Linked DNA regions of Homo sapiens. The protein of the gene in region 1 interacts with the protein of each later gene in a biochemical or structural test. Each region holds a gene or a part of one and is shown in the gene's direction. Other genes may lie near its edges. The genes, in order: ATF2, MACROH2A1, SMAD4 and MAPK9.

Region 1 (7,028 bases):
GAACTTTGTTATTCAGCAATCTGTCAAAAGTACCACTGTTTCTTATTTCTCCAAAATTGGGGGAGATTCTTATAATGATAAAGTAATAGGAAGACAGTACCTGGGTGGGGAAAAGTTTGATTGTGGTCCTACTGCCTATAGTTGCTGCCCAGTAAATGTCTGAAGAGTGAATGAATATGTCAAGTAGTGGAAGTGTTGTTGCATCTGAACACTCTCCTTCAGTGGTAATACAGGCAGGTTCTGAAGAGAGGTTATAAAATAATAGTTTTCTGTTGGCATGTGAAGTAATCCAAAGACTAAGTGATAAAATGTAGCAAGATTAAATTGAAGTTGAATTCATCTTAATGAACAATGGTTTAGGGTCTTTTTTAGCCCCCTCAGATTGATCTTTAAGATTCATCTATTTTATTGTAATGAATTCATTCTTTCAGTTAGCATTTATTGAGTACTTAACTATATGCTAAGTTTGGGGGACCACGGTAGGAGCTCAGCCTACTTAAAAGGACAGACATATGAAAATATGATAGGTGCTATAACCAAGGCATTGTGCCGCACACATGAGATGATTTTCACCTCTACAGGCAGACGGATAGTGGACTGGGCCAAAGATGTTAAAATGTTAAAAATGTTTCATTCTTTTACATTGTGTTTAAGGTAACCCTAAAGCTACTATTATTAGTTGCATGAAAGGATGTAGTGAATTGGGTAGGGGAAGGAGACCACAAGAAATGGAATTCATTTTGATGGTTTGGGCAAACCAAGTTCAAGTATATATATTTTAACATCCTCACTTGTAAGGTTATAAAGAGTGAATTGAGATCTGTTAACTTAGCATTTTAAAATTATTGCTCTGAAATAACAGCTCCCTGTTTTCAGTTATAAATGTTGCTTAATGAGCATCTTCAAAAATGTTGATGTTCAGACATTGGAGATAATGCATTTATTATGTTGTAATCATAAATGTTACCTTTGGCATGCAAAACTTATCCAAGTTAGAGGTAGGAAAAAATATGATGGATAACTTTAAAAATAAAATGTTCTAAAAACAACTTTGCTCCATTTTTATGTAAGAACTCTCATGAAAAAATTATTTTGGCTACTTTAAATTTTTTTATTTTAAAATGAGCTGTTTTGTTATTGTATCGGTTGCTATTTCTTTGCTGGATTAAAACAAAGGCATTCTTTTTTATGTGGTAACATAAAAATCAGATTTATTTCTAAATTTTGTCCAGGCGTAATACTTTTATAAGAAAATTCTCTTTTAAAAAGTGGTAAGTAACCTTAAGTCTAGGTAAATATTAATACTACAGTACTTTCTTGAAAAGTCATTGAACCATGGAGTATAGTTTCTACTATGATAAGACAAATTAATGGTGGTCTATTTTTAGTATCCATAAGAAATTTATATAAAGTTTCTTTGCCTCCAATTTTATTTTTAAATGCTCTCAAATGAGTTATGTGACCTAGCAATATATCAGTATTGCTTATTCTTGAGTAATAGGTTTCTCTGTGATTGTTTGCAATCTAGTGTGCTATCTACTAACAATAACGGATTCTTTTATAGTTTAAAAACTGCTATTTCACTGTTAATGGTGGTTTTACATGTTGTGGAAATTAATTTCCTAATCATTTTACTTATTTGATCAAATTGAAAATCTTAACTATATTTTAAAACTTTTTGCCACAGCGTTTTACCAACGAGGATCATTTGGCTGTCCATAAACATAAACATGAGATGACACTGAAATTTGGTCCAGCACGTAATGACAGTGTCATTGTGGCTGGTTAGTATATGCTTTTATTAATAGCTTGTATACATATTTCACCTGGAATGTGCACAATTTTTGTGTATTCTCTGTAAATAATATAGTCTGGTGATATTCCAATGACTTCATTATAGTAAATGTTGGCAACATGTATTTTACCCATTACATTTTCATGTTTCCTTCTGACTATTCATTTCATTTTTTTGTGTGGTTTTCAAATTTATATTCCAATGTCGATTTTGTGGAAGTTCATTAGAACTCTGGGAACATTCATACCATCTACAAATTTTACATTTAACTAATAATTGAACTAACATGGTATTTAGTCAGCATTTCTTTTAGCTGTCTTGTACAACTGACTTACAAGGCTGTGTGAAGATAGAAAATGATCAAGCTTCTCCCATTGGAGAAAGAACAGTGAGCAGACTTGTTCATTAGAGTTGTTTATATTTCTTTTCAGACTAAACATTTGTATTAGTAAAATATTCTCAGTAAGGAGGCTCTAAATTCAGTCAATGCAGTTTTTGTGTGTTGACACTATGAACGTACAGTATCACCTAAGCAGATGATTATTTTTCACTGTATGTGAAAAGAAAAACCCAGTTCATACATTGGTTGATTGTCATTCCATGCTGTATTAGCTGCCTTTTTTTGGTATTTAAATATATACACACACACATCTATGTATATATACATATATGTCATGTATAATTTTGCTACTTTTTTGTATATTTTATAAGTATTATGATAAAACAAAACTATATAAATTTCAGATCCTTTGTGTCATCACAGATTTACATATCATAAATATTCAGATTAACTCCAGATTTTTCTTTTCTCTTGTAAAGCTTGTTATATGTCATATAAGTCTGGAATTACACCCAAATACTGTAATACTTTTAAATTATTAATCAGTATAGAGACCAAATTGTTCTATGCAGTGTTTTGGATAGATAATAAAGCAAATATTCGGTGGTTTTCCCTCTACTTACAGTATTGAAATTTTTGTAATGAAGAAATTGAAGGTAACAAAGTTAATTTATCGAAAACAATATACGTAGGAAAAATGTAGGGGAACTTCCAACATATCCTAACTAAGTTCCATAAGTAACTTAGAGATATGTTACTTATACAGAAGAGTGAGATAATGCTTTTTTTTTTTTGGAGTATTTTACATTAGACATTAAGAGCTAGAACCAAAGGAACCAAACAAGCAAAATAGTAACAACCTCGAAAGTTCACTCTCCTAGGCATGAAGCTCTTTGTTTCTCTGAAACTTTCTGCCTTAGCACAATCTCTGTCTGTGTGTAACTCTTTAACTCAAATATGTTTTGAAATTGGTTTCTAGAAATTACTTTCCTGTCTGATCACATTTAATGCAGTAGAAAAATAGAGCACATTCAAACACAGTACTTGACCTTTTTTTTCACTAACATGTTGAGATGAATAGGTTAACATTACTATGCAAATAAAATGCATGATGTGTGTGGTATATTTTTGGTGATCAGTAGCCATATGCAATGTGCATGTTAAATGATTGTGCCTATGTTGACTTTTCTGAAGTCTGATGGTTCCAGTAATCATTGATAAAAGTGACTTATGCTTATGTATTTTATTTTTTTAAGATTTTCCCCTCCCTTTAATGTAAGTTAAGAGCCTTCTGATGAACTTAGATAGACAAACCCTTTGGGTGTGAACAGAAGAGTCACATTTAGATTTGACCTACTAATTTAGTCATGATGGACTTAAGCTAATACATGTACTTTACTTACTGTAATGTGATTTTTGAGATCTTTTGGGAGGTGGGAATTAAGGGATAGGCTAGAAACTAGTAAAATTATGATATAATAGAGTCCTTTTAGTAATTCTGATATTACTAACAGTGCCTGAAACAGGCCTGCATTATGTCTAGTTTTGTATTACAAGTGGGTCATTTTAGTGTGAAATATATTTGTACATAGTAAAAATACTAGTCCTCTAGGTATACATGTGGGGGGCAAAGGTAAAATAGGAAGTAATGCCCTCTGTGGGGACATAATGGTTAACAAATATGTAAATTTTAATCTTACAAAAGGAATTAGGAGTATTTTCTCTTAAACCAAGAGTCTTCCTTAGTAGAGTACTTTTACTTCACTTAGGCTAGATCCCTGCTATAGCCTGTAAAATTGGTGCTCTAAAATATATTAAATGTGAATAGAATTTGAATGTGCTACCAACTCTAATCAATATGAATAGACACCCTTGAAAATAGTAACACTAAATAGGCAGAATTTATAAGTTTCTTGCTTTTCATTCAGTGTAAATCTTACCTGGCATTTTTTGTAGCCTATACATGGACACTGAGTACCTATGTTAATGTACATAGTAGGAGTACATATTCGAGTAAAGTTGAAATGTTTCATGTTGTAAGAAAATAGAGTAGACTCTTTCTTTACTCCTTAGGAATTAAGCTAGAACATTCTGGAGGCATGTGACTCACACATATTCCTTGTACCTAGCTTGTAAAATGCATTAAATTAGAAAATTAGTTTCAGTAGATAGTGGTAAAAAGAGGGTTTGTTGTTTTAGGGCTGTTTTAACTTTTTTTTTCTTTCTTACAATATTTTTATCTACCTATTAAAGATTGTTTTATCTTAGTTTGCTTTCATAATAGAGTATGAACAGCTAGTGGAAGAACCAAGTTAAAGCAGATATACATGCTCTTATCCTAGTTTTCCCCAAATTTCATTTATTTAAATAATTGTAGTTTTTAATAATGTAAATTTAAAAAATTCTTTATACTGTGTTAGATAATAATAGTTTATCTCTTGAGTAGAGGATGTTTATGCCATTCTACTCAGAAAGAAGCAGTGGACTAAGGAGCAAAAAGGACTTCTTTCCTACTTTCATATTTCATAGTTCTTAAAGTTGGAGGAAATACGAAGTACAACAAAAATTTAACCAAATTTTGTTTGTTTTAAAGGAAGAGGTCTTTCCAAAGAGAGAATTAACAACTGACTGAACCAGTCCTGCTAATTTGTTAACTTAGTAGCTATATTTTAGAGTCTTAACATATTTAAATATGCATGATTACTTCTTGACATTTATTTCAGATCAGACCCCAACACCAACAAGATTCTTGAAAAACTGTGAAGAAGTGGGTTTGTTTAATGAGTTGGCGAGTCCATTTGAGAATGAATTCAAGAAAGCTTCAGAAGATGACATTAAAAAAGTATGTTGTAACCATGAAATTTAAAAAGAGTACTTCTGACAGAAAAGTAATCATAGTTTATACTTCCTGCTTTTTAAATTTAGACACACTGTTTTTGAACTTATAACCTTTTCCTTATTATTTGAATTATAGATGCCTCTAGATTTATCCCCTCTTGCAACACCTATCATAAGAAGCAAAATTGAGGAGCCTTCTGTTGTAGAAACAACTCACCAGGATAGTCCTTTACCTCACCCAGAGTCTACTACCAGTGATGAGAAGGTTAGAAATTTTTAGAAATACAAAGTAAGGGGGAGGAACAGTACCCAAATAAAGTTTACTATTTAATCTCCATAAAATGTTAATGTATTAAATTCAGTGTCAGCTTGCAATAGTTTTATATGTGAAAGCCTGTCAATACTCAGATATTTCAGGGTAAGAAGACTGCAGCTTTTATTGTACATAGAAAAATTATAGGGGAGAACAGTCATGTTACATAAAACTTATTTTTAAAAGATATATAAATTTATAAATTTAACTTAATTTTTCTGTGTTTTGCTATTTTATATTTAGCTACTTTTATACAGTAACAGCTTAATTAAGAATCTATTCAAAAAATTATTTGAACAGTGGTTTTTTAGACTTTTACAGGATTAAGGGACTAGTTACTCATTCTCAGCAGTGGATCTTTGTTAGCGGCAATTAGGACGATGATGATACTAGCTTGAATACCCAGATAATCTGGGACCACCTGGGCTACAGTTGTGTGTTGAGTAACATTATTATGGGAACTTCTTGATCACTCTTTTGTTCACAAGCACATAGAATAAGCACATATTTATTTGGGAGTACCATGCAGGACACAGCGAAGGGCAATGGGACACATAAAGAGGCAGTGGCAATATTCTTTTTTAGATTGTTATTCTAAAACCATACTTATTAATGGACTTCTGTCATGGCAGAGGAGCTAGAAATAAGGAAATACAGAAAAAATAACTTTTTGGCTAAGAATAAATGCTTTGTTTTCTGTTTTTTTTTCTTCATTTTCTTTTTCTCATTTTAAAAGTACATTCTCATTCTTCTTCTCTAAGAATACAGAAACATGAAAAGAAAACCAAAATCACCTATTAGCACATAATTGAATAAGAATTACTATCTTGAAACATTTTTTTCTAGATATATACATTTATAGGTACAAATACATAAGTGAATAGTTAAATAGAAGGATAGATGGATATAAAGATCCTAGCTTTATTTTATATTGTGCTTTAGACCCTCAGTATTGATGAATATTTTCCCATGTCATTAGAGAGTTCCCCAAATCATACTTTTTAATGATTGTACTTTATTTTATTATATGATATGTATATGTATTATGTTATCCTGTTCTTTTTGGACATAAAGGTTGTTTCCACATTATTACAGTTATTGGAAATGCTTTTTAAATCTCTGATACAAATCTTTTTTCCTAGAGAGCATTTCATTCTTTTCACACTTAACAGTTTTTCATTGTTCGTGGCTGCTTCAGCATCTTTTAGGAGTATTCCTTCTTTCTGCATTCCCCAATCATTAGGCCCTCCTTGAGCAAGGTATACCATATGAAATTGATTTAAAAAAAAAAAAATCTGGACCTCTTCTTCTTTCTTGATTTTCTTCCTAGGTGATCTCATCCAGGCCCATAACTTTAATAAACATCTACATACTGATGACTCCCAAATTTCTATGGGCATAGGTATCTCACCAGATTGCCAGATTTATATCCAACTCCATCTTGACATTACCTTTTCTATGTCTAATAGACATCTTAAACTTAATAGGTCAAAATCAGAGTCCTTGATTCTTCCCCCAGTTTTCCCCATCTCAGTAAATTTTCTCCATCCATTTAGTTGTTCTAGCTGAGAATTTAGGGGTCATCCTTAATTTCTTCTTTCTTTTACACTGAAACTAACAGCATATTTTATCAGACCTGAATCTCATCCTCTATGTCTGTGTTCAGTGACACCACGTAAGCCCAAACCATCATCATCTTTTGTTTGGATTATTAACAGTTACCTTCTAACTTGTCTTCCTGC
Region 2 (6,379 bases), on another chromosome or scaffold:
AGAAACTGAAGCATAGAGGGGTTAAGTAAATCATCTGAGGTCACTCAACTTGTACTTGGTAGAGTGAGAATTTGATCAGAAGCCCTTCGCTTCAGAGCTGTTAGGCTCATGGAACCCCTGCCTCCCATCTCCATTGGTCAGCCAGACCCCAGGTCCCACCACCTCATCCCACCATAGGACTGCCCCCTGCCTGCGTACTCTCTGTGCATAAAACACTACCTGGGAACTCCCTGACCTGCCCAAGTATAGCCATCAGCCTCTTTCCCCTCCTAAGCATTGGCCTCAGAGGTGAGATAAAAGGACAGAAACTCAAGAGACCTTTGAATGGGGGAGAATTTTTCATTTACCCAAAGCCCGGGGGCCTGGAGTGGGAGGCCACTTTGGGGCTGCCCCATCCCCTCTCTAGCTGCAGGGGGCACAGCTCAGGGGAGTGGTGGCCCCATCACCATCGCTTCTGAATGTTCTCCCTCCTGTATACCATTGCTCTCGGCTCAGGATCCTGATGACTTGGATCAAAGTGGCCTGTGGCTGGGGCAACTTCAACCTGGCAATTACTAAAAAATGGTAAAGGCCTAAGAGCAGCCCACAGCACAGTGCGAGGGGGACCTAATCTTAGCAGAAGAATGTCTATACCCTAAGTGACAGACAAAGAATACCAGAATCCACCTCTACTCCTCCCCAGCCGTCAATTGCAAGCTCGCAATCTGTCTGCTCCAGAAAAATCTCCCTGGACTCCCAGGATACAGCCTCTCCTGCTGTGACTCTCTGAGGTCCCTAATGAGCTCCTAGCCTGGATTTGCTGCATACCTGCCTGGCCCCAGCCCTGGAAGGTGAGCTCACTGAGAGCAGGGGTGCTTAGTGAAGTCCCACTCAAGGAGAGGGCTGAGAAGAGCTGGGATGTGGTCCTTGGTGCACCTAGAGTCCCTGCGTGTCCAGACAGGACCGTGGGACAAGCATCCAATGCGTACACCCCCCAGCCATTACTGAGGAGGCTGACCCAAGAGGGCATCTTGCACTGGCCCTGGGAAACTGAGGTCCAGGACTCTTGGGAAAGGCAAAGGGCATTACAGACACAACTGGAGTGAATTTAGGGAAAGCTCAGATGTCTCTTTAGTCTGCTTAAGGTCCTAGCCCTATGGTGTAGGAAACTCTTGACTCCAGAGGAACTTAAGGAACATGCCATAAACACAACCCACAGGCCAGGTCAGGGGCTGAAGAGAGAGTGGAAACAACAAACAGTGCACGCATCTCCCAGGTGGGGCTGATGGTGGCCGCAGTACTGGCAGCCTCATCATCACCACCATTGTCATCACTGCACAGACCCCTGAAACACCTAATTTCTAGTGGAGGAAATTAATGCTTAGAGAGGTTAACACCCTGGCCCAAAGCAGCTGGGATTCAAACCCAATTCTGACTCTAGAGTGGAAGCCCTTAGTCCCTCTTGCTCTGCAACATCTGATCTGAAAGATAGGCAGCACAGCTGTAGGACAGAGTGGCTGGCACAGAGGCCAGGCCAGGCAGGAATGGCTATTCAGAGGGGCCGTGGTTATGCAAGTAGCAAGTGAACCCAGCTGAGAAGCCAAAGATGCAACACCAGTGGGCATGACTGCTCCTGAAAGCAGTCAGTACTGCACTGGGGAGCCTCTATGTAGCCCCTGCTGCTGCATGCCCACGGTCACGGCCAGCAGCTCTCTGGGGTCTGAGGCCAACATTGTTAGCACCGTGTAACTGCAACGACAACAGCAGTTACCCAGTCACAGCTATCCCAGGGACGAGGGTGGAAGGGGCAGTTTTCTACTGCATGAGCCTTTTAAAAGACCCTTCAAAGCCACCTACTTTATAGACAGCTCCTCTTAACTGAAGACTCTCTGTGCCATGCCCCGGTGCTTTGCATTTTCTTGTCCCAGACTCTGATTCCATTTCACAGGATGGGGAAACAAGGCACCGAAGTGGGACCACAACTCAAATCCTGTGTGACTCCGGGAAATCCTGAGCTCTTAACCACTCTGCTTCTCTACCCTGGAGGGAGTAGGGCTGTCAGGCCACCCAAGCCTCAGAGGCAGACCTGGGTCTGACCTGCCTCAGCTGCTGCATGTGCCACCGCTGCCTCTGTCTGGAGGCTGCAGGGCTGTGTGTGGAGTGCTCTTGCAGGGCATCCACCTACACATTCCATTTTGCTACAAGCATTCTAACTGGCAGCAAGACATTTTGAGGCCCACCAGAAAACGTTAGGAAAGCCGTTACCTCCGCCATTCCTTCCTGGCAGCCTGCGCAGTCCAGAGCAGCCACAGTCCCATAGCAGGGTTTCTTCCTTAGGCTGTAGCTTCCTAGGACAGAGGGATGGATTTGTCAACAAAGGGTTGTCCTGGAAACAAATCCAGATTCATGTTCACCCACCAACAACCCTGAAATGCTTGCAAGGCCAGGGACATTCCGGTGGAACCGTCTGCTCTCTATTAACGGGACGGTAGGCAGGTGTGGGCACTGCAAGTCTAAAACATTTGATACTGACCTCTCTCCCCCACTTGCAGATCCTCAACATCTGGGTCCACCCTGCCAGCTTGGATTATAAAGTCCATGCTGGCTATTTGTAGAACAGCAGTTCTCAAAAGCTGCTAGACCTGCTGAATCAAACTGTTGTGTTTTGACAAGCTCTCCAGAATTCTGATGCAGGCTAAAGCTTGAGAACTATTGATGTAGAGGAATAGAAAAGAATATTTCCTCACTGAAAGTCACATACTCTTTTGTAAGGGTCCAAGGCAGAGGCAAGGAAAGCCTCAGGAGGGGTCTGTGTCAGAAAGCACTGGTCACAGGCAGGAGTGACTGGCACACTTTTGGTGTGTTCCAGGGAGACCCCTTGGGACCTCCCAGTCAGCATGGCATGGCATGGGCATGGGCCAGGCTACACTGTGTCTGCATCATACCACATCTCACCCAGCTTGTGTGGGATGTAGCTAACCGTTGTTGGAGACAGCTGCCTGGGCATGCAGCCCGGCTGCAGCTACAGAAGCCCTGCCCCAGGGCTAGCTCAGCTAGGCAGAACATCGGGCCACCTGACAACTGCTGTTTGCAGTAGCTCCACAGGCCCTCAGCCCAGCCCAGCTCCCTGTGCACGTGTGAGGCTGAGACAGGCAAGAGGGCACCTCACTGTAGGGACCTTGGAGCTGGCAGAGCATGGTCTTGGGATTCACATGCAAAATGCAACTTCTCACAGCTCCTCTCAGCACCCTGCAGCCCCCGTTGATCCAGGTCACATCCACAGACTGGGCTCTGCCTGCTCCAGAAGCCCTTGGCCCCTAAGTACAGGCTGCAACAGGACCGAGGATCCCAGCCCACAGTTAGAAGCAGCCTGAGCTGCTGGAAAGATGCCCCCCAAAAATGGAAGATTGAGTTTTTATCTCCTCAAGCAATTCTCAACGTGGCTCATTCCAGATAACCTGTCCTCTGTGCTCCTTGACTCCTGTGAATATAGTCAGGGCAGCTCTGCCTGGTGTGGGCCAAGATTTCAGATCTGCAAACAGCACTGGTGCCAGAGGAATGACCTGCCCACTCTCAGCAGAGCCCTTTTCTTTCACTATACATGCCGCCCTCCATCCTGGCCCACCTGTTAGTCTAGTCTAGAATCACCAGGGTCTCCCGGGAGGAAGCTGCGCAGGTCTAACACCACTCTCGTGGCCAGAGCGGCTCTGGAGCTCTGACCCCTCTCATGGGAAGAGTTGTATGCGCTGGCTGCTCTGTGGCTGAGGAGCTGCCGCCTGTGTGTGAAGGAACCCTGGGTTGCCCCCCACTAATTGCCCGCAGGCTCCTTCACATAGGCTGGGGGCACATCTCTTGTCCTCTAAGAGTGAACTCCACTCCTGAGGCATCCAGAAGCTCCTAAGTCTCCACCAGCCGGGTGAAGCCGTGTGTGGTCAAAAGCAAGTCACAAGAGGGTTTCCCCTGTGGCTGTGAAATGCACTGTGCACTGTCAACAGTGGATCGCTGAGATGTTCCAGGGCCAAGCCAGGAGGTTCAGAGTGCACAGGCATGCAGTGAGTGAAGCTAGCAGTACTACAGTAGATACCCACCTTACCACCTCTGGAAACCCCTCCACCTGGCAGCAGGTGCCTCATGTGAGGGAGAGCTCCAGCTGAAATAGGCGGGTTGGCCCAGCGCTTTGGACACCAACACGCCCACAGGCTCAGGCGGATCTGTGACTGTAGATCTGCCAATGAACAAAGAGCCTACCCATGAGAGCTGGCCCCAGACTCACCCTCAGTATCCTTAACTGTAAAATGGGACCAGTAAGGGATGTGAATCCAGGGCCACTGGCTCTAAACCCAGGTTTTCACTAGACCAGGCAAGCTGCCCATCTCCTCCGGGGTCCCCTGGGCTACCCACATGCCATGCTGACCAGGAGCAGCCTCAGGCACACCACAGAGCAGTGAGGGCCAGTCTTGCCAGTCCTGATTTCACATTTTTAAGTCCAGAGCACCTACCTCCAAAAATTGCCACGACATTTATTTGAAGTGGAAATGTGTGTGGATTCAAACACATTTGGCTTGGAAACTTGGATGATAGCCCAGAGTTGAAGAGCCCACAGCTCCCTGCGTTCTGGCCTCTGGGGTGGTACCGCTGGTGTGTGTTAGAGGGTGGATTCCTGGGCGGTGGCCCCTGGTGTGAAGGGGTAACTCTTCTGTGTGGGTGGATAGAGGTCAGTGCCTTCCCAGAGAACCTGCAGCCATCCCCTGGGGCTGACATCAAGAGCCTGGGCTATGGCTCAGGCACTGTGCTAGTCAAAGGTATCATGGAAAAAGAAAATCAGGAGCTTACACTGTACTTCGGGGGCTTAATGCACACCACAAAACACTATTCTGTTTGCTGGCTACTGCCTTCTCTAAAAGCACATAGCACATCCTTCTGCAGGTGCCAGCTCTCTGCCCAGTTGTCTGTCCCCCATCCCATCTTCTGGGCACTGGGCTTTCCCACACTGGCGTACAAGCAGACACGGGGCTCAACAGACACCGACCCAACACAAGGCAAGCTGCAGCACAGAGGGAGGTGGCCTGTAAGGTGGGGCAGGTCCTGCAGCCCCCGTGGCATCCCAGTTGCTGAGTGCTTATCTTCTCTTCTCCAGGAACGGTTTTCCAAAGCAGACAGCAGCTCAGCTGATTCTGAAGGCCATCTCCAGTTACTTCGTGTCTACAATGTCCTCTTCCATCAAAACGGTGTACTTCGTGCTTTTTGACAGCGAGAGTATAGGCATCTATGTGCAGGAAATGGCCAAGCTGGACGCCAACTAGGCTGAGCAATGACAGAACCAGCTGCACCATGTACCCCACCTTCAGTTTAAAAGAAAAAAAAAATCCCCTTCACTCCTACTGGGAGGTGGGACCCCTTTCATTTTCAGTTTTGCTCATCTAGGGAAAATAAGGCTTTGGTTTCCAGTTTAATTGTTTTTGACCTTCTAAAATGTTTTTATGTTAGCACTGATAGTTGGCATTACTGTTGTTAAGCACTGTGTTCCAGACCGTGTCTGACTTAGTGTAACCTAGGAGATTTTATAGTTTTATTTTAATGAAACCCTGATTGACGCACAGCAGTGGGGAGAACAGCGTCTTTTACCTGTCACCGAAGCCAGGAAGCCCCGTTTGTAAGCGTGTGTTGTGGTGCTTTATTGTACATCCTCCAGTGGCGTTCTTTTTACTCTAATGTTCTTTTGGTTTCCCCCCTCAGAAGAATCATGAATTTGCAACAGACCTAATTTTTGGTTACTTTTTGTCTTATTGATGGATTTGAAAATGAAAGATTTAATAAGGCAAAGCAGAATCTGTTGTCCTTAATTATATTTGCAATTTGGAATTTGTGTGAGTTGATTTAGTAAAATGTTAAACCGTTGTTGTGACTGGTGTGTTCCAGTTATTGTGCCCGTGAGTCACAGGTCTTAAGTCGGCTTCTGCAGTCCCAGGATGTGGGGGCAGGGCAGTCCATCCCCCTCAACCCCCACCCTGCTCCCACAACTCCTTGGATGCTCCACAGTGTTCACTGCAACCTGGGTGGGTGTGGGCCATCTGCTGGCCCCAGTGGTTTGTAGAGAGAATTTTTATAAAGTCTCACCTTTTGGTTCTGTGTGACCCTTGGGCCAGGGTGTTATCCCCATTCCCCGTTCCACAGATGAAGGAGGGAGTGTATCCAAAGCCGTGCAGGTGGCATGTGGCAGGCTCCAGACCCTGAGCCCAGCTCTCTCCTACCATTGTCCCCTTCTGACAGTCTGTGACTTAGGGCTGGGCCTGGCCACTTGCTGATGAAGCTGCTGGAGCCTCATTCCCTCTGCCGAGGCTGCTGGGTCTGTCATCCCTGCAGGACAGGATCCCTGGCAGAAGGGTGCGTGGAGCTTTCC
Region 3 (7,028 bases), on another chromosome or scaffold:
TGTTACAATCTATACTCTGTTAGTTATTTTAAAGTGTACAATTAAATTATTGGCTACAGTCACCCTGTTGTGCTGTAAAATATTAGACCTTATTCATTCTAACTACTTTTTGTACTATTAACCATCCTCACCTTCCCCCAATCCCCCACTACCTTTCCCAGCCTCTGGTAACCATCCTTCTACTCTCTGTCTCTATGGGTTCAATTGTTTTGATTTTTAGATCCCACAGATAAGAACATGTGATGTTTGTCTTTCTTTGCCTGGGTTCTTTCACTTAACATAATACCTCCAGTTCTATCCATGTTGTCTCAAGTGACTGAATCGCATTTTTTTTATGGCTGAATAGTACTCCACTGTGTATAAGTCAAGCATAAAGAATTTTAAGCATACCGGAATAATACAGGAAGTTCCCCCATTGTACTCATTCCTCAGTTTCAGCCATTATCAAGTAATGACCAATCTTGTTTCATTCATACTCACTCTCTTTCTTCATTCTATATTATTTTGAAGCAAATCCTATATTAGTTTTATATGTAAATATCTTAGTATATATTTCCAGTAAAGGTTTTTAAAACATAAACACAGCGCCCATAATGATTAATTCAAAGGGTCTTAAATTCTTAAATAGGTCTACATAATTTTCTTTGTGTAAATGTTCTGTTATTGATTATGTTGGTTTAATTTTTCTTCTAGCTGTTTAAAAAAATAGAAGGGAACATCTTTGTGTTTATAACTTTTCTCATATTTTAGTTTAAGAAATTTGTAGAATTTCTAGATCAAAAGGCCATATTACAGTGACACCAGAGTGTGAGAACCAGGGTTACTGTGCTGGCTAGCAGTAGATGTCATAGTTTAATAAACTTTTTGCTGATTTAAGAGGCAAATACTTGTTCTGGTTAGGGAAAAGGTGATATTAGTGGGGCAGAAGCATTCTTTTAACGATATATATTTATTATCTTCTGTAACGGATTTTCTGTGTTACATTGTGTGTTGTGATTTTAAACATTTTTGTAGGTCAAGGGGTCTAGCCTTTTCATAAACTTTCTTTTTTTGAGAAATGTAATATACAGAAAAGTATGTAACACAAGTAAGTATATAGTCTAACATCACTAAAACCAATACTCATGTAACCACTACACAGATTGAGAACTAAAACATTATGGCATCCCAGAAACCCTCCTACCCCATGAATTTTGTCTCTGTCAAAACCTCTTTCCTTCTCCCCAGAGGTAGCTACTGTCCTGCTTTTTATGGATATCACTTTTTTTTTGCTCTTTTATTTATTTTTTAAATTTTTATTTATTTATTTTGAGATGAACTCTTGTTCTGTCACCCAGGCTAGAGTGCAGTCATGCAATTCGGCTCACTGCAACCTCCACCTCCAGGTTCAAGCCATTCTCCTGCCTCAGCCTCCCGAGTAGCTGGGATTATAGGCACCCGCCACCATGCCTGGCTAATTTTTGTATTGTTAGTAGAGATAGGGTTTCACCATGTTATCCAGGCTGGTCTTGAACTCTTGGCCTCAAGTGATCTCTGCCCCATCGGCTCCCAAAATGCTGGGATTACAGGCATGAGCCACCATGCCTGGCCCTTTTAAAGTGATGAATACATCCCTAAACAGTCTAGTAATCTGGCTTTACTTGTTTTTTTTTTTTTTTTTTTTTTTTGAGACGGAGTCTCGCTCTGTCACCCAGGCTGGAGTGCAGTGGCGCGACTTGGCTCACTGCAACCTCTGCCTCCCGGGTTCACACCATTCTGCCTCAGCCTCCCAAGTAGCTGGGACTATAGGCGCCCGCCACCACGCCCGGCTAATTTTTGTATTTTTAGTAGAGACGGGGTTTCACTATGTTGGTCAGGCTGGTCTCGAACTCCTGACCTCTTGATCTGCCCGCCTCGGCCTCCCAAAGTGCTGGGATTACAGGCGTGATCTACCGTGCCTGGCCCTCATTTTCTTTTTACCTAGCTTTATAAATACTTGTTTAAAACAATTTAACATTTGGACTGATTGTGTAAAGACCACTTTTAAGTGTTGTTACTGTTTTTTGTTGTGTTTTTTTTGGCCACCAAAACATTGGGTAATTGTTGTCTTAGACAATCTCTGTAGTTTTGGTTTAACCAGTGTACCTATCAGTTGTTTGCTGAAGCTTCTTGTCCATAGCATAATGTGATACCTTCACATTACATTTTCTATAGACAATATATATATATTTTTTTAAATTTTTGAGACGGGGTCTCACTCTGTGGCCTGGGCTGGAGTGCAGTGGCACTCTCATGGCCCACTGCAGCCCTGACCTCCCAGACTTAGGTGATTCTCCCATCTCAGCCTCCCGTGTAGCTGGGACTACAGGTGGACACAACCACGCCCAGCCAATTTTTCTATTTTTCGTAGAGACGCGGTTTCACCATGTTGCCCAGGCTGGCCTTGACCTCCTGGGCTCAAGTGATCTGCCCATCTTGGCCTCCCAAAGTGCTGGGATTATAGGCATGAGCCACCATGCCCGGCTGAAAATAATTTCATAAATACTTCAAAACTGGCTTTTTAAGAAGACACTCAGTGAAGACACTTAGTGTATCACTGGTTTTTATGTTCTAAGCATAATGAAATATATGTAAACAAATATTTATCTTTGTGACAAGTTCATTAGAGTGACATGGCAAAACATTTGAGTTTTTAAGTTTTTGAATTATCCAATCTTCATGTGATCTGTTTTGATAACTCCTCATTGCATTGGAAAGTATTTTATTGCTTGGCAGCATTTTGAAAAGTAATTAGGGTACATAGCTTTTACAAGTTGTTTTCTTTTAAAAAAATTTTAAGCATCAATCATACTTCATTTTAGGTTATTTTTTTTTTTTCCGTAAGATCTGGGTTTCTTTTTTGTCATTCTAAGTAACTTTGTTGAAAGTAAGATTGTTGAAAGTTTTATTGCTTCAAATTCTAGTTTAAAGTTCATAAACAGCTTATTGAGATACAGATAAATCTTTCTTTTAAATATGTCGAACCTATTTCCACCCTGGGGTCTTTGCTTTCGCTTCCTCTTTGAAATCTGTTCAGTCTTCACATAGATAAAAGGTTATTCAGGTCCCATCTTTTCAGATGGGATGTCCCCTACCATCCAGTCTGAAGTGTTCTTCCCAATCATCTGCTGTTCCATACCCTGTTTTATTTTCTTCACAGTGTTCATTGTTATCTGAGTTATTTCATTTGTTTGCTTATTTGTCTGCCCCTGCACCTCTGTGAGAACAGGGACTGTAGCTGTTTTGTTTTCTACTGTGTATGCAGTGCCTAGAAAGATCCCTAGATACTCTGTAGATATCTGTTAAATGAGTTAAAACAGGAAAGCCAAATAATTTTTATGTATTTGGGCTTGATGTAATAATTGTTGTTTACAAATAAAAATTAGAAATACTTGATCAGTTGTCTTTGTAAACCAGAGTAGCACCTCTTTTTTCCCAGTGATTTAAAATTATATATTATTGTTCAAATGAGTACACTAAATACATCTCCAAAGTTAAAATTGTGGTAGTTAACATGACCTGACTTCACTAAAAATACCTTTTGCTATGGCATAGGTGGGACAAATGACCTTCTACCCAAGAGACAGTTGAGAATCTGTGTGTACAACAACTGTGTGATTAGAGTATAATTAACCTTAACTCAGGGATGGGATAGCTGACTTGCTTATGCACTTTCTCTCAATTAGGGAATCTATAAAAATATGTCATGAGTCGATGTTATTCAAGGACAGTTCCCTGGAATACATCTTAGGGTCAGTGTGTTTTTAAAAAATAAAAGTTGAGACTACATAGAGAATATGTGTAGTCAAATGAAATACCATGGTAAAATAATTTATTTTAGATTCTGATTATTTCTGTTCTTTAAATTCTCAGTTGACCTGGTCCTTTGAGGTAAGAACCAAATTCCAGATTTTAAAAAATGACTTTTAGAACTTGAGGATAAGTGGTAATTGGAAATTAAAAAAAAAAATTAGTGTTTTAAGAACAGTGCTAAGTACTGAGCTAGAAAATAGAAGACATGGAAATTCCTACCTTTTAATGCATTATGTTATTTTAATCCAGTTGTTTTGGGTGCATTACATTTCCATCTCCCCTCCCTTTACCCTTTCTTTTAGGAAAAACTGTGTTGTGGAGTGCAAGTGAAAGCCTTATATCTTTCTCATGGGAGGATGTTCTTTCCCATTTATTTCCTATAGCTCCTGAGTATTGGTGTTCCATTGCTTACTTTGAAATGGATGTTCAGGTAGGAGAGACATTTAAGGTTCCTTCAAGCTGCCCTATTGTTACTGTTGATGGATACGTGGACCCTTCTGGAGGAGATCGCTTTTGTTTGGGTCAACTCTCCAATGTCCACAGGACAGAAGCCATTGAGAGAGCAAGGTATTGATTGTATAGTCAGATAGTTACTTTAAAAAATTGAGCATAGTACATTGTCTTTTATTCAAGGTTATGTTTTCCCATGTACATTATATGTGTTCTTAAATATAAATAAAGGAATAAAGGTCATGTTGAAAACTCAGAATTTGTAAGCACTCCATCTTAATTGTCGGTGTTTTTGTTGTTTAACATATAATGATAAAAGATAGCCTTTTTTATGTTAGTAGGTTTCTATGTTTCGAATAGTAAGTATACCTTTTGAAATTCAGTTTGAAAATTTTATTTTCTGTGATCATACATTTCTACAAATTACTGAAAGGAAGTAATATTAAATGAGAACATGTTTCTGAAAGTTTTACTTATAATGTTAAAAAAATTGGTAATAAAAGGGAAATGGTTAAGTAAATTATGATAAATTTTTCCTTTTTTATACAGTCATTAAAATGTTTAAAAGTTTATATAATGAGGCTGGGTGCGGTGGCTCACACCTATAATCCCAGCACTTTGGGAGGCGGAGTCAGGCAGATCACTTGAGGTCAGGAGTTCGAGACCAGCCTGGCCAACATGGTGAAACCCTGTCTCTACCAAAAATTAGCCATATGTGGTGGTGTCCACCTGTAATCCCAGCTACTCAGGAGGCTGAGACAGGAGAATTGCTTGAACCCAGGAGGTGGAGGTTGCAGTGAGCTGAGATCGTGCCACTGCACCCCAGCCTGGGTGACAGAGTGAGACTCCATTTCAAAAAAAAAAAAAAAAAAAGTTTATATAATGAAATGGAAATGCTTACAGTGAAATATTACAGGAACATTCCATTTTAGCTACTGTATGATCTCGGCTTTTAAGGATGTGTGTGCTAAAGAACATAATCTTGGCTCTATCACTTGCTGTCATGTGACTTTGGCAAATTACCTAACCTCTAAGCCATTCTGCCTAATAGAATTTTCTGTGATGAAGAAAATGATTTATATTTGCACTGTCCAGTTCGGTAGCCACTAGCCACATGTAACTATTGAGCACTTAAATTATAGCTCACTTGATTGACTAATCGGATTTCTAATTAGTTTTAATTTAATTTAAATAGTCACATGTGGCTAGTGGCTATCAATTTGGACAGTATGCCTTAGTTTCTTTATCTAAAAAAATTAGAATAATAGTACTTGTTGAGTTGTAAGGGTTTAATGAGAATTCATACTACATGCTCCTGACACATAGTAAGTGTTGTAAATATGTGCATCATTATTAGATATGAACAGGAAAAGAAAAAAGGAAATATACAAAAATGTTAATAGCTATCTTTTGGTTTTATGTGATCTTTATTTTTAATTTTTCAATATTAAGCATGCTATACAATCTGAACTAAAATTTAATTTAAAATACTTATCAAGATAAAATGTAATTTCTTTTTTCTTCCTAAGGTTGCACATAGGCAAAGGTGTGCAGTTGGAATGTAAAGGTGAAGGTGATGTTTGGGTCAGGTGCCTTAGTGACCACGCGGTCTTTGTACAGAGTTACTACTTAGACAGAGAAGCTGGGCGTGCACCTGGAGATGCTGTTCATAAGATCTACCCAAGTGCATATATAAAGGTTAGTTACAATTTTATTTGAATATTTTAGACTTAAAGCTCTATTTGTTGTCAAAAGAATTGAAATCTGGGTGGAAGGAATGGAAAAATGTTTTATATATTAAATAATAAGAAATTGTGTTTAAGTATAAAAAACACATTTTCTGAGGGCATTTATTGACATTATCAGTAATCTAGTTTTATCGTTGCCAATTTGTTACATTTTGTTTTTTATTTTATTTATTTATTTATTTATTTATTTTTGAGACAGAGTCTTGCTCTCGTCGCCCAGGCTGGAATGCAGTGGCGTGATCTCGGCTCACTGCAACCTGCGCCTCCTGGGTTCAAGCAATTCTCGTGCCTCAGCATCCCAAGTAGCTGGGATTACAGGCACATGTTACTGTGCCTGGCAATTTTTTGTATTTTTAGTAGAGACGGGGTTTCACCATGTTGGCCAGGCTGGTCTCGAACTCCTGACCTAAAGTGATCCGCCCAACTTGGCCTCCCAAAGTGCTGGGATTACAGGTGTGAACCACTGTGCCAGGCCTGTTACATGTTTTAGAGTAATACAAAGGCTCTTGAAAATACTGAGTGAAGCCTCCAAAGTTGTATTCCTGTAACTTGAAATTTGTAAGAATCAGACTCTGGACTTTCATCTTAGCCAATCTTCAGGATTTTATGGAAGAGAATTCTAAAATTAATAGCTTTTCAAATTAAGAACCTGATAAGCCTGAAATATTTTTCACTAGTTATATATTCAACCTGTTTGAATTTTACTTTATAATATAACCTGTTTTTGAAAGAGAAAGGCAGTTGTAATTAGATAGCCTAAATATATTTTTAATTGTGTGTCATCCTCAACATTTTCATTGTCAGTGATTGTAAATTGGTAGAATTAACTGTGTCTCATAACTTATTACCAGGAAGTTGCTTAGGATAAAAATAATGTAGCCCCATAGCATCCATAAAAATGGAATTGCCTGATTACCTCACAACAGCAAACCCAGTTTCTCATTTCCAGTTATAGTTCAGTTAAAGAATGTTGGAATTTTTTTATATGACACTTTTAAA
Region 4 (7,028 bases), on another chromosome or scaffold:
CCAGCTAGTCAGGAGACTGAGGCAGGAGAATTTCTTGAACCCAGGAAGCGGAGGTTGCAGTGAGCTGAGATAGTGCCATTGCACTCCAGCCTGAGCAACAAGATCGAGACTTCGTCTCAAAAAAAAAAAAAAAAAAAAGAGATTGAAGCATTAAAGGCTGACTGGAAGTACTGAGTGAATGGGTAAATTGTTAAAGAATGGGTGTCTCTTGGACCACAGGCAGCCACAGGTGTCACCTTCTGTAGGTTTTTTCTCTGGGCACCATTTAATTTCTCTGGAAAAGGCCCCTTCAGTCCCTTGGTGGAGGGATGTAAGCCTGGCTGCTGGGGTACAGGGCTGTGCTTCTCATGTGGCAGAGCGCAAACTCACCAGGCAGCCCTGTTGCAGGCAGGCCTCACCGTGCCTTCCCTGTTGGTACCCACAGGACTGTGCATGCGGCGCCTGTGGCCCTGCACCTGGAAGCTGGGCATCAGTTTCTCTGCGTGAAGGGCCAGCAGGAGTGAGGAAGGAGTGGAGCCTCACTTCTGGGATGGAGATGGGGATCTGGGACATCTACTACGTACTTGGACTTTCAATAAAATGAAAACTTCTCCAAGTGCTACCCTTGCCTCTTCTGCCTCCATAGCACCTGCATTTCACTTGCTGAGCCTTTCCTGGGTGTCGTGGCCATTTATAGAGGTTGGCATTTCCTTCGCTCAGCTAGGGCATTTGGGCGGCCCTGCAGCTTCCTGTCCCTGTAGCGTGGGGCTTTTCGTGGGCGGCTTCCGCATGCCACGGTGGGTTAGACAGGCGAGGGACTGGCCGGGAGGAGGCCTGTGCGAGAAGGAAGGGGGAGCAGCCAGAGGAGGCAGCAAATGCTAGCTGAACGTAGTGCAGTCCTGGCCCCTCAGAGGCCTGGTCCAGACTGCGGTGCAGCTCTGAGGGCCTCCGGTGTCACACAGGAACGGGCCTGCCTCAGCATCCCTGCCCGGTCGGCCCCTGGCTGACGGCTCTGTGGGAGGTGTGCCCTGGCAGGGACAGAGGGTAGGTGCAGACACCACACTGGGCCATCTGTCACTCTCACTCCTGTGGCGGGAGACCAAGGAGTGCATTTCCGTGGACCCCACAGTCCACCCTGGCCCCCTCAGCTCTACTTCTCCACATAAGTTGGGAATGGCTTTCCTGTGGCGCCCATGGTTCTCTCTTCCTCAGGGGAAATCTGGAAGACAGAGGTTAGTGGGACACCCTGTAGTCCCTGTCACTGTGGTCTCTCTGCTGGCTCTTTCCCTACCCTTTCCTGTTATTCATACCCTCAGCTCTCACATTGGCAGGCCTCTGTGGCTTGCCTGGCCTGTGTCCCAGGCCTTCATTCCTGAGCCGTCTGTGTCTGGTGGCTCTCAGTGGGCCACAGGGTCCCAGGCCACCCAGTGGCCGTCTCCCCAGTCCTCAGTGTGTAGCCGGAGCGGAGGCGCTTGGCAGGTGGAGTAACGCCCACACGAGTTCCTTGGCCTGTGAGTAAGAGTCGTCACAGTGGGAAGGCCAAATGGAAACCTGAAACTGCCCCCAAGATAGTAAATCAAAAACAAGATCACACCCTGCAGGGCCCGGGGTGGGTGGAGGAGACTAGGGCCACCATGGAAGCCTCAGGGGAGCAGAGACAGTGGTATCTTGCATCCCAGTCTAACTCGTTAGTCCAGCCCTTGAAGAAGCTGCATGGATTCTGGAGAATGACCCCAGACGGCCACAGGCTTACGGCACTGGCAGTCCTGGCCGCAGCTGCTGTGCATGTCAAGGTGCAGTTGTTGCTGGAGCAGATTAATAAGGCCTCAGGTCTGGCATGTTGATGGGGCAAATGCATCCTCCACACTGATTAGAAGAGAGGCCCAGACAGCGCCCACACTGCTGCAGGCTGGACAGCAATGTTCTCTCACAGCCTTGCTCTAAGCCTTTGCTAACGTTCCCACCCTCCCATAACATGGCCGCAAGAGACCTGGCCCAGACTTCACTTATGCCCTGACCCCTGACCCCTGACCCCACGAACCCTGCAAGTGGAGGAGCCCTGAGAGTGTTTGGGGTCTTCGGGTTTCAGTGTCTACTTAGAGCTGTGTCCATTCATCCTCAAGAGTGCCTGGCTGTTCTTACCCGGTGGGTGGCCACAGGTACCTGTGGGGAAGGACCGGCAAGGCCAGACAGTGGACACCTGTCATGATGTGCTCCTTCCTGGGATACCTCTCAAGCAGTGGGTCTGGATCCCAGAGTTGAGCGGGCAGTGGGGGAGGTCAGCACCTGCCCCACTCATGCTGCGGGTGCTGTGGGTACCCTCACTGCTGCCCACAGGGTAGCGTTGGGTTCCAGGCATTTTGGGAGCCAAGCCCCGATCCAGGCGTCACTTGGATCTGTACTTGGCATTTGTCTTCTTTGTTCTGAGTGATTTTCAAGACTTGAAGGGGCAGAACTGTCTTTCCTCTGCTGTCTTGAAATTGAAGTGAGGTGTTGGGAAGCTGCCTCAGGTTGTATTTCGGGGGTGACTAGAGAGGGTCCCAGGGTGCGGGGAGAGCACCTCCTTAGCCACCTCCCCATTGGCCACACAGAGCACCCACACAAGCTTGGGACTTTATCACCACAGTCTTCCAGCAGACGGCAGTAAAGTGTGCTTTTCCTGTTAAATTAGTATGTGATGACAGTTTTTTGACAGATGGCAGTGTCTTCAGATGAGCGTGTTTCTGGCGCACTGGGGTTCACAGAGCTGGCAGGCAGCCCGTGGAGATGGTTCCACTGCTGCGTCTGTCCTTGGTAGAACCAGGCTGTCCTTGTCTTCCTTGCTCCTGCGGCCGTGCTGTTAGTTCTGGGTGGGCTGGGCTTCAGGGCCTGCTGGCTGGGGAAGTGTGTGCATTTCACACCTCAGAAATCAGCCTCCTGGAGAGAAAGTGCCCACTGCACACCCTCTGTGGCCTGAGGAAGCGCCTGTTTCTGCTTCTCCCGCCAGCACCGAGTCTGCTTGCTTTCCATCGCTGCCAAGTGATAGACTAAAAATGGGCATTCATTTTGGGTTTTTAAAGAAGATTTTTGTGAGATTGAGCATTATTTTATCTGTTAGTAATTTATGTTCTAAAATGCCTGTTCTTGTCATACTCTTTGATTTTAAAAAAGGAAACAAGAAGCGAATTCGTTCATTTGGTCTTAGCTCCCTGACTTGGTCCTCACAGCGGAGCGTCCCTGGTTGAATGTGGGCTGCTTCTCCCTGGCTTTCCTTCATGCAGGGAGGCAGCCCGGTTTCTTCCTCTCAGGCCTTTCTGGGAACCGGGGGTGTCTGCACAGTACTCTAAGGTGGAATGGAGGGGCTGGGGGCCTCTTTTTGGGGCCAGGTAGAGATTGTGACTGCATTTTTAAACATTATATGTTTATCATTTAAATCTTACAGAATCTAGGAAGCCTAGAAACAGGTCACTTAGCAGCATGGCAGTGTAATTGTACCTGTTGTCAATGTCGAAATGGCTTCCTGCTTGCCCTGATGACAGCCCCACAGCCTTCACTGAGGCATGCCGCCTGCAACCCCCCTTGTGGCCCATCAGTTGGGGTGTCTTACAGGCAGGTGCTAGGCAGTGCTACTGAACCTGCAACTTCCTGGGTAAAGTATCCTCATGCCTTACGCCATGTCAGTGGCTTGGCAGTTTGACATTGCAGGTGCACTACTCTTGTGAAAAGAATGGGTGTGGGTTGTTTACAAGTCACAGTTTCTCAAGTGAGTTTGCAGGCCGAAGTCCCCAGGCAAAAGTCAAATTCCTAAGGCCTGAGGAAGGGGCTAGGGTGGAGGATCAGCAGGAAGAAAATCCCTTAGTTATGAGGGAAAAGGTTGCAGAAGTTGTGTTAAGGCTTTGCAAGTCAGGTGGAATATGATGCATGTCTTCATTCTGCAGACACTTCCCAAGTGTCTGCTCGCGCCAGGCGTGCTTCTGAGTGCTGAGAGCTCACACAGAGTCAGCACTGGGGAGGGAAGAGAGGTGGCAACCAGAACATGAGCAGGTGAGTTTTTGTGCCACGTACAGATGGAGACAGCAGCACCAGTGCTGGCGTGTCTTTGTGGCGAAGGTGAGAAGATTGGAGGTGGATGATCATGGAATTGCTCTTCCAAGGAGAGAAAGAGCCATGGGAAGATTCCAGGATCAGACGATTCTAGACCTGTGCTGTCCAGTATGGCAGCCACTAACCACAGGAGGCTGTGGAGCACTCAGGATGTGGCCGTGCTGCAGTTGTAAAATACATACTGGACTTCAAAGGCTCAGTACTAAAAAGAGAATGTAAAATATCTCAGTATTTTTCTTATGTTGATTACATTTTGAAATGATAATATTATGGATATATTGGGTTAAAAAAATATACTGTATGATTAAAATTAATTTCACCTATTTCTGCATGCTGTTGAGCATGGCTAGTAGAAAATGTAAATTATACACATCGTTCGCATTATATGACATTGTCTGTGGGACAGCACTGCCCTGGACTGACAGACAGCATGAGGACCTTAGCAAGAGAGAGTCAGAGTATTGGGGAACTCAAGTCCAGGCGTGGAGAGCAGGAGGGGGCCGTGTGTGCTGGACTGACAGCATGAGGACCTTAGCAAGAGAGAGTCAGAGTATTGGGGAACTCAAGTCCAGGCGTGGAGAGCGGGAGGGGGGCATGTGTGCTGGACGTGTAGATGCATGGATGGAGGGTAGATAGGACAGCCTGAGGGCCTGCGAGACCACAGAAAGGGCAAATGGGGGCCATGAAGGTTTCCACTGGGGGTAAGGGGCACCATCTGACGGCTTTAGGCTGATTTGTTTTAGTTTCAATTTGAGAGTAAGATTTTCCAAAGTTGTTCCCAAATCTCAGAGTTCAGTTCACTCCCTACACTCTCACACTGGCTTCACGACCCTCACGGATGTGAAGTAGTTTATTTAGCATGCTTCATTCATTTTACTAATTTAAGCCATTTCTTTCCTAGGATTTGAAGCCTAGCAACATTGTTGTGAAATCAGACTGCACCCTGAAGATCCTTGACTTTGGCCTGGCCCGGACAGCGTGCACTAACTTCATGATGACCCCTTACGTGGTGACACGGTACTACCGGGCGCCCGAAGTCATCCTGGGTATGGGCTACAAAGAGAACGGTGAGTATAGCCGGGGCTGGAAGAGGCTGGGATGTTTAGAAATTGCTCTAGCGGTGGTCTCGAGTTTTTTCTCTTTCCTTTGAACCATATGATATATACTGTGGGGACTGTTACACCCAGAATATAGCATGATCCAGAGATAAGAAATAATTAATTGTGTTTTTCCATTGGTTAAAATCATTCTCTTTTAAAAATTCACTTTTAAAATTGTTATTTTTGAACTTTTTAATCAGAGTTAAGCTGTCTATAGCCAAGTGTGCAAATCCTGAGTGTGCAGCTCAGCTGAGGTGAGCACACCCACAGCAGCAGCAGCTCTGGCCTCCCCATGGCCCCTCCTCGCAGCCCACGAGGCTGGCCAATCTCCTGATCTCCAGTACCATGGATCAGCTTTATTTGTTGGTCTGCATATTGTTTTTTTGAATTTGATGTAAATAGAATAACACATGTTTTCATGTAAAATTGGTGTCTTTTTACATCAAAACTTAGCTTATTCTAGCAATATCAGAGCTCTTTGAAACTTGGCTTTTAGCAAATTTGTTGAAAATAACGAAATCACGCTTACTTATTTTTAAAAAGACTGAAAGTTTGCCCGGGTCATCTGAAATGAGTTTTGCTACAGGTTCATCTTGCTGCGTTGTAGCTTGTGTTCCCACCCTGAGGGGCACAGCTTCATGTGCTTCCTGTGGAGGGGAGAGAAAACTTGATCCCCTGTTCACTTCTCCCCTCGGCCCGCCAGCAGGGCACTTAGAGGCCTCTGCTGTCTGTCTGAGGCCCCACAGATGAGGGTGGGCACCGTGGAAGTCTGGGCCCCTCTAGCAGGGCCTCACCTGCAGTCCTGCAAGCCAGCCAGCCTGTGCCGCCAGTGAGTGCTGCTGCCTTTCTGACGGGGCAGTCTAGAAAATGATCGCTCAGGAGGTGTGGTATCAACAACGCACAGAGGCTCCCGCCGGCAAGCTAGTGACGTGTACCGGGTTTGTCCTGGGAGGGGGTTTGAAGAAAAAAGATGGGGGACTCTAGCTGGTTTTTAATCCCCTGGTGTTTGGTAGTGGACATCTGGTCTGTCGGGTGCATCATGGCAGAAATGGTCCTCCATAAAGTCCTGTTCCCGGGAAGAGACTGTATCCTTCACAGGGGACCCGGTACTTGGCCATGGAGGCTGGGGTGGGCGTGTGGCCCTGAAAAGCTTTGTGTTCACAGGCACTTCTTGTTTCTGGTTTTTTGTTTGTTTGTTTGTTTGTTTTAAGCTATAAAGTATTGGACTCTTTGGCACTAAAACCCCAGATTGCTACAAACCGAAGGCTAAAATAGAGGTCAGCAATCATTCATATTGTGTAAAATGTCACCCTTAGCTAGCAATTTATTTTTCCATATTTGTGTGTTTAGTGCACTGTTAGAATTCCTTTTCCTCACTTTTGTTTTGTTCATGGCACTTCATAATTTTATCATTTCATTTTATTTTCAGTTGATATCTGGTCAGTGGGTTGCATCATGGGAGAGCTGGTGAAAGGTTGTGTGATATTCCAAGGCACTGACCGTATCCTTCCCCGCGACCTTGGCCCCGCCATGCTTTCTTAATGCCTCAGGCAGCATGACCACCTGCTTACACGAGCGCTCACGAGGACAAAGTCGTAAAATCCACTCCAGACTGTGTTCTAAGGGGGGCTTTACTGTATTTGTTAATTAGTGTCACAAGCCAAGTGGTTCAATTTCATTCTTTATTTTTAACTTGACTACCTGTGATGACTTTGAGACTTAGAGTTCAGTTAAACCGATTATATTAGCTCTTAATTTTGCCAAAAATAGCTGGACACATAGAAGAAATTATTTACTCTTTGATAAGTATATTCTGATATTTAAATGAAAATACTGTATTATTTAGTTTATTCCGTTAATTTAACT

Evidence for each region.
Region 2: the proteins of ATF2 (region 1) and MACROH2A1 form a complex in vitro, tested with the Homo sapiens proteins (one study listed by BioGRID and IntAct).
Region 3: the proteins of ATF2 (region 1) and SMAD4 form a complex in vitro, tested with the Homo sapiens proteins (one study listed by BioGRID).
Region 4: of the proteins of ATF2 (region 1) and MAPK9, one has a biochemical effect on the other in vitro, tested with the Homo sapiens proteins (4 studies listed by BioGRID and IntAct, with this or other methods).

What each region holds. Positions count from the first base shown.
Region 1 is NC_000002.12:175,116,200-175,123,227, reverse strand, and holds part of ATF2 (cyclic AMP-dependent transcription factor ATF-2), read left to right. Parts: intron 1-1,687; coding exon 1,688-1,784; intron 1,785-4,858; coding exon 4,859-4,977; intron 4,978-5,109; coding exon 5,110-5,238; intron 5,239-7,028. UniProt on the Homo sapiens protein: Transcriptional activator which regulates the transcription of various genes, including those involved in anti-apoptosis, cell growth, and DNA damage response.
Region 2 is NC_000005.10:135,333,879-135,340,257, reverse strand, and holds the end of MACROH2A1 (core histone macro-H2A.1), read left to right. Parts: intron 1-682; exon of another isoform or gene 683-830; intron 831-2,244; exon of another isoform or gene 2,245-2,327; intron 2,328-5,116; coding exon 5,117-5,282; 3' UTR 5,283-5,877; downstream 5,878-6,379. UniProt on the Homo sapiens protein: Variant histone H2A which replaces conventional H2A in a subset of nucleosomes where it represses transcription. Nucleosomes wrap and compact DNA into chromatin, limiting DNA accessibility to the cellular machineries which require DNA as a template.
Region 3 is NC_000018.10:51,061,209-51,068,236, forward strand, and holds part of SMAD4 (mothers against decapentaplegic homolog 4), read left to right. Parts: intron 1-4,214; coding exon 4,215-4,398; coding exon of another isoform or gene 4,399-4,405; exon of another isoform or gene 4,406-4,537; intron 4,538-5,810; coding exon 5,811-5,979; intron 5,980-7,028. UniProt on the Homo sapiens protein: In muscle physiology, plays a central role in the balance between atrophy and hypertrophy. When recruited by MSTN, promotes atrophy response via phosphorylated SMAD2/4.
Region 4 is NC_000005.10:180,247,074-180,254,101, reverse strand, and holds part of MAPK9 (mitogen-activated protein kinase 9), read left to right. Parts: intron 1-4,963; coding exon 4,964-5,129; intron 5,130-6,175; coding exon of another isoform or gene 6,176-6,247; intron 6,248-6,373; coding exon of another isoform or gene 6,374-6,402; exon of another isoform or gene 6,403-6,439; intron 6,440-6,591; coding exon 6,592-6,663; coding exon of another isoform or gene 6,664-6,704; exon of another isoform or gene 6,705-7,028. UniProt on the Homo sapiens protein: Serine/threonine-protein kinase involved in various processes such as cell proliferation, differentiation, migration, transformation and programmed cell death.